3 linked regions of the Homo sapiens genome follow. The protein of the gene in region 2 purifies or fractionates together with the protein of the main gene of each other region. This does not show direct contact. Each region holds a gene or a part of one and is shown on either strand. Other genes may lie near its edges. The genes, in order: OLFM4, FABP3 and LYPLAL1.

Region 1 (3,533 bases), on a different chromosome or scaffold from region 2:
GCTCCGTACCCAATGCACAGCCCATCAATAAATCACTTGCTGACCGTCCTGCTGCAGAGTTACATGGTGAGTCCTGCTGTTCATAACCCATATGCTATTGTGCCATAGAATGACATGCAAGTATTTCATCTTTCCATCCAGACACTGTCATTGTCACAATGTGTACAATCAAGTGGGACAAGATTCACTGGTCCACTGAATCTACATTCCCTGTAACACTTGGGTAAATAACTCAGTCTGGGCGATCAACCCTTCACATTGTACTCCCGCTGAAATGCCTGCCATCCCAGGAGTTTATGAGCTATAAAAATAAAATAAAGTTCCTCCAGTATTTTTATAATAACTATCCAAAGAGTTGAACACACATTTTCTGGGATCTTAACACTCAAAAAAACTCATGAGATGGTTTATTGGATAACAAAGAAAACCCAACTTCAAGTATATTTGAGGTCATTTTCCCTCGTCCTGCTGCTCAGAGCAGAGCAGGTGAGACAGGAAAGGAGCAGAACCTGAATTGTTGGATTTGGCCTGAAATACTTGCAGGGACTCAGAGAGCCATTGAGGAACATGAGGTGAGCTGGAGCCAAAAGCAGAGCTCCAAAGAATTGCCTGAGATTAGCATGGAGGCGGGGAAGGGGGAGCAAAGCCTTTGTCTCTGGGTCTCTGCTGTGTCCAATATGGAAAGACCCATTCCTTTCCTTGCTAAATGCTTTCCCTCCCCATCCTCCTCACCCAAGGACTGCTCAAAGGTGAAACCATTACTAGAAATTCTGTTTTTATTTTTCCAATCGGCTGGGGCTTTTTGGTCCCAGAATTAAATATATGCTCCTTAAATGCTCTCATAAATCCACAGTTGGTGAGAAAGCCAGCCAACCATACAACAGGTAGAGAAATGAAACCACTCTGTATCCAACCTCAAATAATTTTGCATATCATTAAGCAGAACACAGTCACAGGTTTATTTTAATAATGCATGTGCCATTTCATAAATAAAAAAGCAACGTGTTTTCAGCCAAGAGACTATTCTCCACTGAAGAAATAATAAATAAAATTATAAATTATTATTTCTTCTACTAAAAGTGATCTCTCAGATGAATGCTTGTTTGCTTTTGTTTATGAAACAATGCATGAATTATTAAAATAAAGTTAGCGGTGTGTTCAGTTTAATGATAACAAAAACTGTTCAAGTTTCCATATGCTACAAACTGGATTTTCTAGCTAAAGTATCTTCCTGAGAACTTATTTATTTAACTACATTTCACTCTGAGGAAAGTCACTTTTTTTTCTTTCAGGTTGGAAGACAATAATTGTTTGCTTCATTGAGTCTTGCCTTCCTGAAAAGAAAATATCCCAAACCGACAGCAACAAAATATTTAAGGAAAATTGATGATGCATATAACTTATTCAAGCACTACCAAGAGGTTAAACTATTCTGTCCCCAGATGTGGAAATTTTTAGACATGAAGGAACCAAAATAAACTTCTCAAAAAATTACTATTACTACTGCTATTATCATAAAACTAATTGCATTATTATTAGTATAATAGTATTAGTACTATTACTATTGTTACTACTACTAATAGTAATAGTGGCTCATCATTTCATAAGTTGACCAGAAAATTCAAATTGCCCAGTGTAAATATTAAAATGTATGAAACTTTGTTTTTCTCACCTCCCAAACATTCCTAAACACTTTCCTGTTCATTTGTTATCCTCCTTTTATCCTCTATGGGTAAGGATAAAGGGCTATTTTTAGGGCCCCGGCTGTGGTAGAAAGGAAGTGGAAATGGGGATGAGAACTCAACATTGCTGCCAATGCTACAAATGTGGCCACAACAATGTCAGACCAGGAAAAATGCTATGGCGGGCTTCCTCGACTCCTGGCAGCAAACCATCTTGGACACGATACTGAAACTGACAGCCAGTCCAGTGCCCACTGTTCCTCAGAGTCCCCATCCCCCCATCCCATCTTCACTGAGCTTCTCACCACCCTCCCTTATCTCATGCTCCTTGCCAGCCCCTTCCTTCATGTCAAGGTCTTAGACATACTTCATTCCATACTTCATACCCAGTTTCCATCCCAATTTCACCCTGACACTTGGGCAACAGCCCATTGCCCAATCATGATCCAAGAATTCTGAAAGACCATTGAATCATTTTGCATTTTCTGGTGGAAGAGAACACACAGCACAGAACTGTCAGGAGCAACAGTACCCTTTTACCTACTCCACTACCAAGGAAGCAAAAATAATTTGGTGTTAAGCAGATAGGTGAGTTGTTGGAATTTTCTTTTCACTCCAGAAATCACAGGTGCACCTCTCTGTTAGAGCAGCTATGGAAGGCAGCCTAGTATGGAAAATACTACTAGACAGATTCTAATTCAAAGCCTGATTCCAACAGTAGTTGTGTATCCTTGAGCAAGTTACTTAACCTTCTGAGCCTCAGTTTCCTCATGTCAGAAGAAAAATAATACCAACTCTGCAAAATAGTTACGAAAAATACAGAGAAGACATGTAAATGTTACTCAGTAAATGGTAAATATCTCAATATAATCACATCATGTTACAACTGGAGGTTTAGATGTCTCATTTCCTAGATAGTGGCTTCTGGAGGTTTCTTTACTCATGCTGGTAACCCCAGTACCCAGAACAGGGCCAGCCACACAGTGGCACCAAATTATGTTTGTGGAATAAAGGAATGAAAGATTAATCAAGTCACCTAAACTCAGCTTACCCTTATTTATAAAACACTAGCCTTCTACCCTGCTACATATCTGGTTTTTCAAAAAGCCTGGCATTTACTCCATGGAACATAATTTGAGGAACCCTCTATAGAAGTTTAGCCTTGGTTGGCACTCTCTTCATCATGCAATTCATTAGATGGCACCATGGTACTCTGAAAATACCTGAGGAAGCCATAATCATGAGAATTTAAAATATTCTGACTTGGCTTTTTAAAAGTATCATGGTTAGTAGCATTTTTTTGAAGCCAATAATTATATGCCTACAGAGGAAAATTAGTCTTGGATCTATTAATGCACTCTCTCAACTGGGCAACTGAACTTTGTTTGAGCCAGGAGGAGAATATGATTGACTTATAAGAATTAGGCAATTAAAACAATCATAGTCATAAAATGATTAAGACTAAATTGACTCTGAAGTGTTGGATATATGCTGTTCAACATGTGGCTCTTCCCTAAGCTTGAGATTTTAGCAGGTCACCCCATTTCTTTCAGACCCCATTTAATCATCAGCTACTTACTGAGCATCACTATGGACCAGCACAGAACCTTGCATCCCCAAGCAAACTGGAGATCAACCCCTGAGCACCCGATCACATTTGGCCTATATACAGTCATTTAGATTCACAGGCAAAACAGAGACAGACTGAAGTTTTAAGGGAAAAAAGTTAATGAGTAGAAGGCCAATTATTTTAGATTAGAAAGTTCTATGAAATGAGGCAGAAAAAGGACGTTGTTTGTAGCAAAAACCAAATAGGAAGCATATTTTATTGAACCTGGGATACATTCACTT
Region 2 (2,823 bases):
ATTAGCTCCCGCACAAGTGTGGTCTCTTGCCCGTCCCATTTCTGCAGGTGAACAAGTTTCCCTCCATCCAGTGTCACAATGGACTGTGGAAAGAGGGTAGAGGCCTGAGCTGTGATCTTAGTCAGGAATTGAGGGGCAGGGTGGGGTCTGGACACTGGGCCACAGAGCACACAGCCTTTGACCCAAACTAGTGATGGTGTGAGGACAAGAGCTCAGGCAATCCGCCTCCCAGCTATCCCTGCAAGACATCTAGTTCACCTCCAGCCTCTGCTCCACTACTGCCTTTCTGGGGAAGAGGCCTTCAGATATTAGGCAAGGAGGGAGAGGCAGGCAGTATGGTGGAGCCAGAGAGCCTGGCTCTGAGAAGTACCACAAGCCTTCAAGACAGACACTTATCTGTACTCTAGGTGATTCCCGTAGCCTGGTCCCCTCAGATACAGGTGGGATTTACTAGTCTATCCCTGGGAAAGACTGACTGAGGAGGAGGAGTAGTCCTGAGAATCTTTATCCAGCCTTGTGGTTAGTCCACATAATGTCTAAAAGACCCTTAGTGATAGGAAGTATTGGATAATTAGACTTCCTGCCCTGTATTCCTACACCTTTTCTTGGTCCACATCATGTGACCTCTTTAGCCAACAAGAGGGCAGCAACCACAAAGTCCTGTGACTGGATGCCCTTGAAGTGGTTCCTCAGCTCTGGGTGCTGCCAGCATACATACATCAGCTGGTTCTCATTTGGCAGCTCTTCCAGCTCTCTTTCCTAGGAGTTTGGGGGCCACAAGGCCAGGCTAAGGGATCCTGATGAGCAAGGTGGTTCAGTAGGAGAATCTGAGAAGGTTCTGTGTATTGTTTAGGTGATAAGGGGTATGAGGCCTGTCTCTTAGTGTGCTCTTTTTTATCCTTACCTTACTCCTTGTTCTCATTCCCCTAGTTTTTTTTGCCTACTCAGAGTAGATATTTTTGCCCTAGGCATTCCACAGGGCTATTGTGTTTAATTGGGGTTCTTGCCCCTTGAGAAAGTAGGCAAGTCCAAGGAGGTATGAGCAGGTGGTGGGGCAGCCACCTTTATCCAAGGTAGACTGCCATCTTTGGGCACCATCCCCAGCTCTGCTGCCAGCCACCTGTGTGATCCTGTTCTTTCTGGGGACAGCTATGAGGAAGAGGAAACAGCTGATGGGGCTGAATGATAGTGTCATGATAGAACACTGCTATAGGGACACCCTATAGAGGTCAAAGCCCTTAAGTTCTCTCGCTCCCATGCCTGGCCTGGAAGGCTGAGGCAAGCTGCCAAGACAGCCACTGCAGGGTGATAGAACCCTGGGAGGAGGGGCTAAGGCTTGGTGGGAAGACACTGCAAACACATTCATGACAAGGTGAATGCCCTATCACGGAACATAGCTCTTCCTGCCTGTCAGCTGGCAACACTGGAAATAGTTTGTCAGGGTCATTGGCCATGTCTGGGAGTTAGAAGTTGAAGCGGCATCTGAGTAGGTGCTTCTAGTTCCTGGCTGCCTTTTTTGCTGCTGGAGGTCACAATGACCTCACTCAGTGGAGGGCCCTGACTTCTGGGCATCATTCCTAAAGCACTTCAGGTCACAGCCATGGCCACATAACTCTGCCATCTATGGAAGGGGAAAGAAACCTAGAGCTACTGCATACCTTGCACAGGGTCACCCAGCTGGAGCTGGAGTAGATACTGAGGTCAGAAGAACATCCTGGCTCTGTGCTGCCCATTCCGAGGCAGACAATAGATGAATCCCAAGAAGGGAGGGAAGAAAACAAGAGGACAGAACTGACATGTATTTAGCATCAGTGGCATTCCAGCACTACACAGGCTTTATGAATCTTGTTTCATTTAAATTCCCCATGATAGTCTGCCCCTCAGGGTGCAATACCAGGGAGCCAAGACTACCAGCCTATTCTCTTTTAGAGTCTCAGCACTCTCCATTCCCCACCCCTGTTTCCCTGACTTACCTTGACCTTCCTGTCATCTGCTGTTGTCTCATCGAACTCCACCCCCAACTTAAAGCTGATCTCTGTGTTCTTGAAGGTGCTGTGTGTTTTTAGGGTGAGAATGTCCCCATTCTTTTCGATGATTGTGGTAGGCTTGGTCATGCTGGCCACCTGCCTGGTAGCAAAACCCACACCTGAGGGTAGGGGGAAGGTTATGAGTATATGAGCTGGGGTAGAGAAGCAGTGTACAAGAAACTCAATGAATAACTCTCAGGCCTGGGTATGGGGAAGTGGAGGACTGTATCTTTCAAAGCCTTTGCATGGGAATTTTAAAATTCAGTCTTGCGCTTAGTTCTGTTTGGTGAACACAGATAACTGATCCCATTAGATGAGAGATACTTAAGGAACAGCAGTGCCATAGCAAGTCAGTGGCAGAGCTGGGATTAGAATAAGCTACTATTGGGCCAAGTGTGGTGGCTCACGCCTGTAATCACACTTTGGGAGGCCAAGGCAGGCGGATCACATGAGGCCAGGAGTTTAAGACCAGCCTGGCCAATATGGTGAAACCCGTCTCTACTAAAAATACAAAAAATTAGCCAGATGTGGTGGTATGTGCCTGTAATCCCAGCTACTCAGGAGGCTGAGGCTGAGAATTGCTTGAACCTAGGAGGTGGAGGTTGCAGTGAGTCGAGATTGTGCCACTGCACTCCAGCCTAGCCAACAGAGTGAGATTCCACCTCAAAAAAAAAAAAAAAGCTACTATTAAGTACTATGAGCTTTTTGTGTAGTAAGAACTGTACATGTTATCTCATTTAGTTCTTCCTGTTCTTCTGAAGACTGTTTCCACGTTACAGATACAAAAACAGAGGTA
Region 3 (3,661 bases), about 190 Mb from region 2:
TCACTCAGTAGTTGCTTGGGAAGGTTACGGGAGTTGCTCGTGAAGGGGCATGATGGAATTTTCCAAGGAAAAGGAATGTTCTGTATCATTGTGGAGATGGTGGTTGCATTGTAAAAAGTAATTGAACTATACACCTAAAATGTGTGTAGTTCAATATAGTTTATATATGTAAATTATACCTCAATAAAGTTGGTTTTAAAACTTCAATTGATACTCTTAAATGGTAACATTTTAATGTATGTCAGCACCTACTGCTATTACTGCTGTGGGCAAAAGGATATTTTCCTACCTTTCCTGTAGAAAGGTAAATTTTTACAACTTTTATGGAAGCAACTTTGAGACATCTATTAAGACAAAAATTGTACCTTTTAATCCAACCTGTTTCTTGACTCTTTTCCATAGGAATAAAAGTTCCAGTAGATAAAAACACGTATGCATATGTTTAATGAAGCATATTTCTTAGTGGCTAAAAGCTGGGTACCAAATTAATTCCCATTATTAGGGGAATGGCTGATTAAATTGCAGAATATGCTTATCATAGGATATAATATAGCCATTAAAAGGGTAAGTTAGAACTGTAACTGATGAAAGGATTTCCATGAGATATTGTTGAAGGAAAAAAGCATGATGCACATAATAGAATCAGATAGACTACTTTATTTTTGAAAAGAAATAGTGTGCCAAGAAATAGCCTGTAAATATGCATATTTTAATTTATAAGAATAACATTGAAGGATATATTTCAGATCATTTACACAGTTTACCGAATGTAAAGGACAAGATGTGTGAGGGAGTTGGAGAGAAGAGGAGGAATGTAGAGATGGGTAAAAAATGAATAAGATTGACATGAAAAACATCTAAACAATGTATATATATATAATCTCATATTTAAAAAATTTTATGTATCTGCATAAACTTAGGGAAAACATTTAAGTTTTTATGTACTGACTTTCAGAGGTATTCATCATATCCATTTAAATTTTAGAAAATGTGTTACAAAGTAATGTTTATATGATTCTATTTGAGTAAATAAAAGATCCCCGTATATGAATTTTTGTTAAATTTTAGTCAGTTCAACTTTCTTGTTTCCAGGTTTTTTTTTTAGTTTCTCTGAGAAACTTTCCAAATATAACCTTGACGTTCAAGCCCCTTAAGTGGATGTCCATTTATTTTGGGGTGGTATGATCAATATTGAAAAATGGTGTAATTTTGTTCCCTTCCAGCACCACCCACTGGTCCTAAAGATTGTATGCATCCCAAGGCCAATGACAATTGAATATTTCTAGCTCCTTGAATATGCTGAGGTTCTACTTGGGTTTTTCACTAGAGAAGAAGTACAAAAGCATGTTCAGGTCTCACCTGTTGTCTTTTAGCCGTCTATTTTTGTTTTTCAATTTAGCTGCACATTTCATGCTTTTACTTTACTAACTTTGGTGGGTGACAGTATACAGCTAAATTTGAGATGGCAAAGTAGAGGAGGTATTGGTGTGGAAAGAATCCTGTGTCTGGGTTCATCAAAGGGAAATATTACTTGTCATTGGTTTAGAGTTCTTTCAAATTACTATAGGCACTTTTGTCACTGGCTATGTTTTCTTTGCCACTCTGTTTCTCATCATTACGTGAGGAGAAAGCAGGGCATGCCAAGGGATAAGGATTATCTTCTGTGCAACTCTTCCGTTTTTCATATTTGGAAAACATTTGTTCTCTGTGTTTATCTAATATAGCCCCCATCCCTCTCTGTGTTTGCCCACAGAAATCTCTAAGGTTTTTTTTTGTTCCCCTTTCATTTACATCTACCAACATAATACTTGAATACAGGACCCCCTTTACTCCATTACAGTTTGGAATATCTTGATGGTGTGTGTGCCTGTGCACGTATGTGTGTGTATTTTTTTTAACCAACATAGTATCCCAGAGCATGAATATACAATGAATGGATTAAGATTCACTGGTACTGTAACTGTTCTCCCTCTTAAAAGATGGAGGGAGTAGGTAAAGAGGATATGAACTGGCATTAGTAGATTTTAATGGATTAGATACAAGTATGGGATAGTTAATACAATATACATGAGAGTAGTTTTAATATGCATTTAACTTATAAAACTTAGAAGAAATTGAAATCATTTATTCAAAACACTATTATTTTGGTAATTAAAGCATCCATTTTCATATTCCCTTTTCCTTTCTTTTTTTTTGGGGGGGGGCGGTTGTTAAACAGATCATATACTCCTATGAAAGGAGGAATCTCCAATGTATGGTTTGACAGATTTAAAATAACCAATGACTGCCCAGAACACCTTGAATCAATTGATGTCATGTGTCAAGTGCTTACTGATTTGATTGATGAAGAAGTAAAAAGTGGCATCAAGAAGAACAGGATATTAATAGGTAAGACCTTTAAATGTTGGTAATTTATCACTGTTCACTTTTGTCTAATTCTATACATCAAATCTTACTTGGAACATTATTTAGAAGCACTTGTATATCATTCGATGCATTCATAGTTTCAGATAAACTTTACATATTGAGGATTTCAAAGATATTAGAATTATAAACAGCAGCGCATGAAACTTTAATTGATTTTCTTTTTGAATAATAACGGATTTTGAGACTCTTGTGGCAGTTAAAATTTTTCTTCTAGTTTAATTTTCAGTTAAGAAATTATTCATTTCAATTTTTAAAACATTTTACTTCAGTTACCTTAACTCTTATGAATATAAGTTTAAACATCTATTGCCATTAAGATATACAGTCAAAATATACCACTACATTTATGAAAATTATAATCTTCAGAGTTAATCTCACAAGAATATTTGTAAATTTTTGTTAGACTGTCTTTAGCAAGCCCTGTTCCTAAGGGAATATAAGTAGCTTTATATAAGCTCTTTATTCTGCTTAATACCTTTTTCTGTTTCTGGACTTAGCATATACATAAATTATTAAAATCTTTTTCTAATACATGCAAAAGTGAGATGGGGCATGTAGAATATGAATGGTACACGACATATTTTGGTGAAAGGGTTTTATTTCCAAATGTAACTATTTAACTTACAATGAGTTGTATTTAATGATGAAATTAAAAAGCAAATTAAGTATCCCCATTATGTTCTAAATAACATTAAAATGCACATTGAAATTCTTTATAGATGGGATTTGGGTAAACTAATAAACTTTCTTTGTGTTTATTGAAGTGCTGAACTGTCTGTTGAGTCATGAGAGACAACATGATATAATGGATAAAATCCATTCTATTCTGTCTTGGCGTTAGTTTCCACTTTGTTGAAAGCAGCGTGGCCTCTAGCATAACAACATCACCTTTCTGGTCCTTAGTTTCCTCATTATGTTTAACTCTATATTTCTGTGTTTCCATGTTTAACGTTGATGTTTAACTCTAATAGAGATAAACATGGAGCATTATGGGAGGACTAGGAAGAGTGTAGGGAAGGGATTCCCAACTTAGTCTAGGGGATTATGAAGTAGTTAGAAGATAGAATTCCAAACATGTGAATCATGTATCATTCAGTCATCATTCAATCTTTAGCAAGTATTTTTTAAGTCCCCACTATGTGCTACGCATTATTATAGATGTTCACGGGGATGTGCAGATAAGTAAAGCAAGATCTATCTGCCTTACATATTTCTTACAACCTGAAAGGGCCAA

The links.
Region 1: the proteins of FABP3 (region 2) and OLFM4 purify together in Homo sapiens (co-immunoprecipitation; one large-scale study listed by IntAct). This does not show direct contact.
Region 3: the proteins of FABP3 (region 2) and LYPLAL1 fractionate together in Homo sapiens (co-fractionation; one large-scale study listed by BioGRID). This does not show direct contact.

The regions. Positions count from the first base shown.
Region 1 is NC_000013.11:53,045,733-53,049,265, reverse strand, and holds part of OLFM4 (olfactomedin-4 precursor), read right to left. Parts: intron 1-3,533. UniProt on the Homo sapiens protein: May promote proliferation of pancreatic cancer cells by favoring the transition from the S to G2/M phase. In myeloid leukemic cell lines, inhibits cell growth and induces cell differentiation and apoptosis.
Region 2 is NC_000001.11:31,367,412-31,370,234, forward strand, and holds part of FABP3 (fatty acid-binding protein, heart), read right to left. Parts: intron 2,180-2,823; coding exon of another isoform or gene 2,147-2,179; coding exon 1,974-2,146; intron 84-1,973; coding exon 1-83. UniProt on the Homo sapiens protein: FABPs are thought to play a role in the intracellular transport of long-chain fatty acids and their acyl-CoA esters.
Region 3 is NC_000001.11:219,190,864-219,194,524, forward strand, and holds part of LYPLAL1 (lysophospholipase-like protein 1), read left to right. Parts: intron 1-2,218; coding exon 2,219-2,388; intron 2,389-3,661.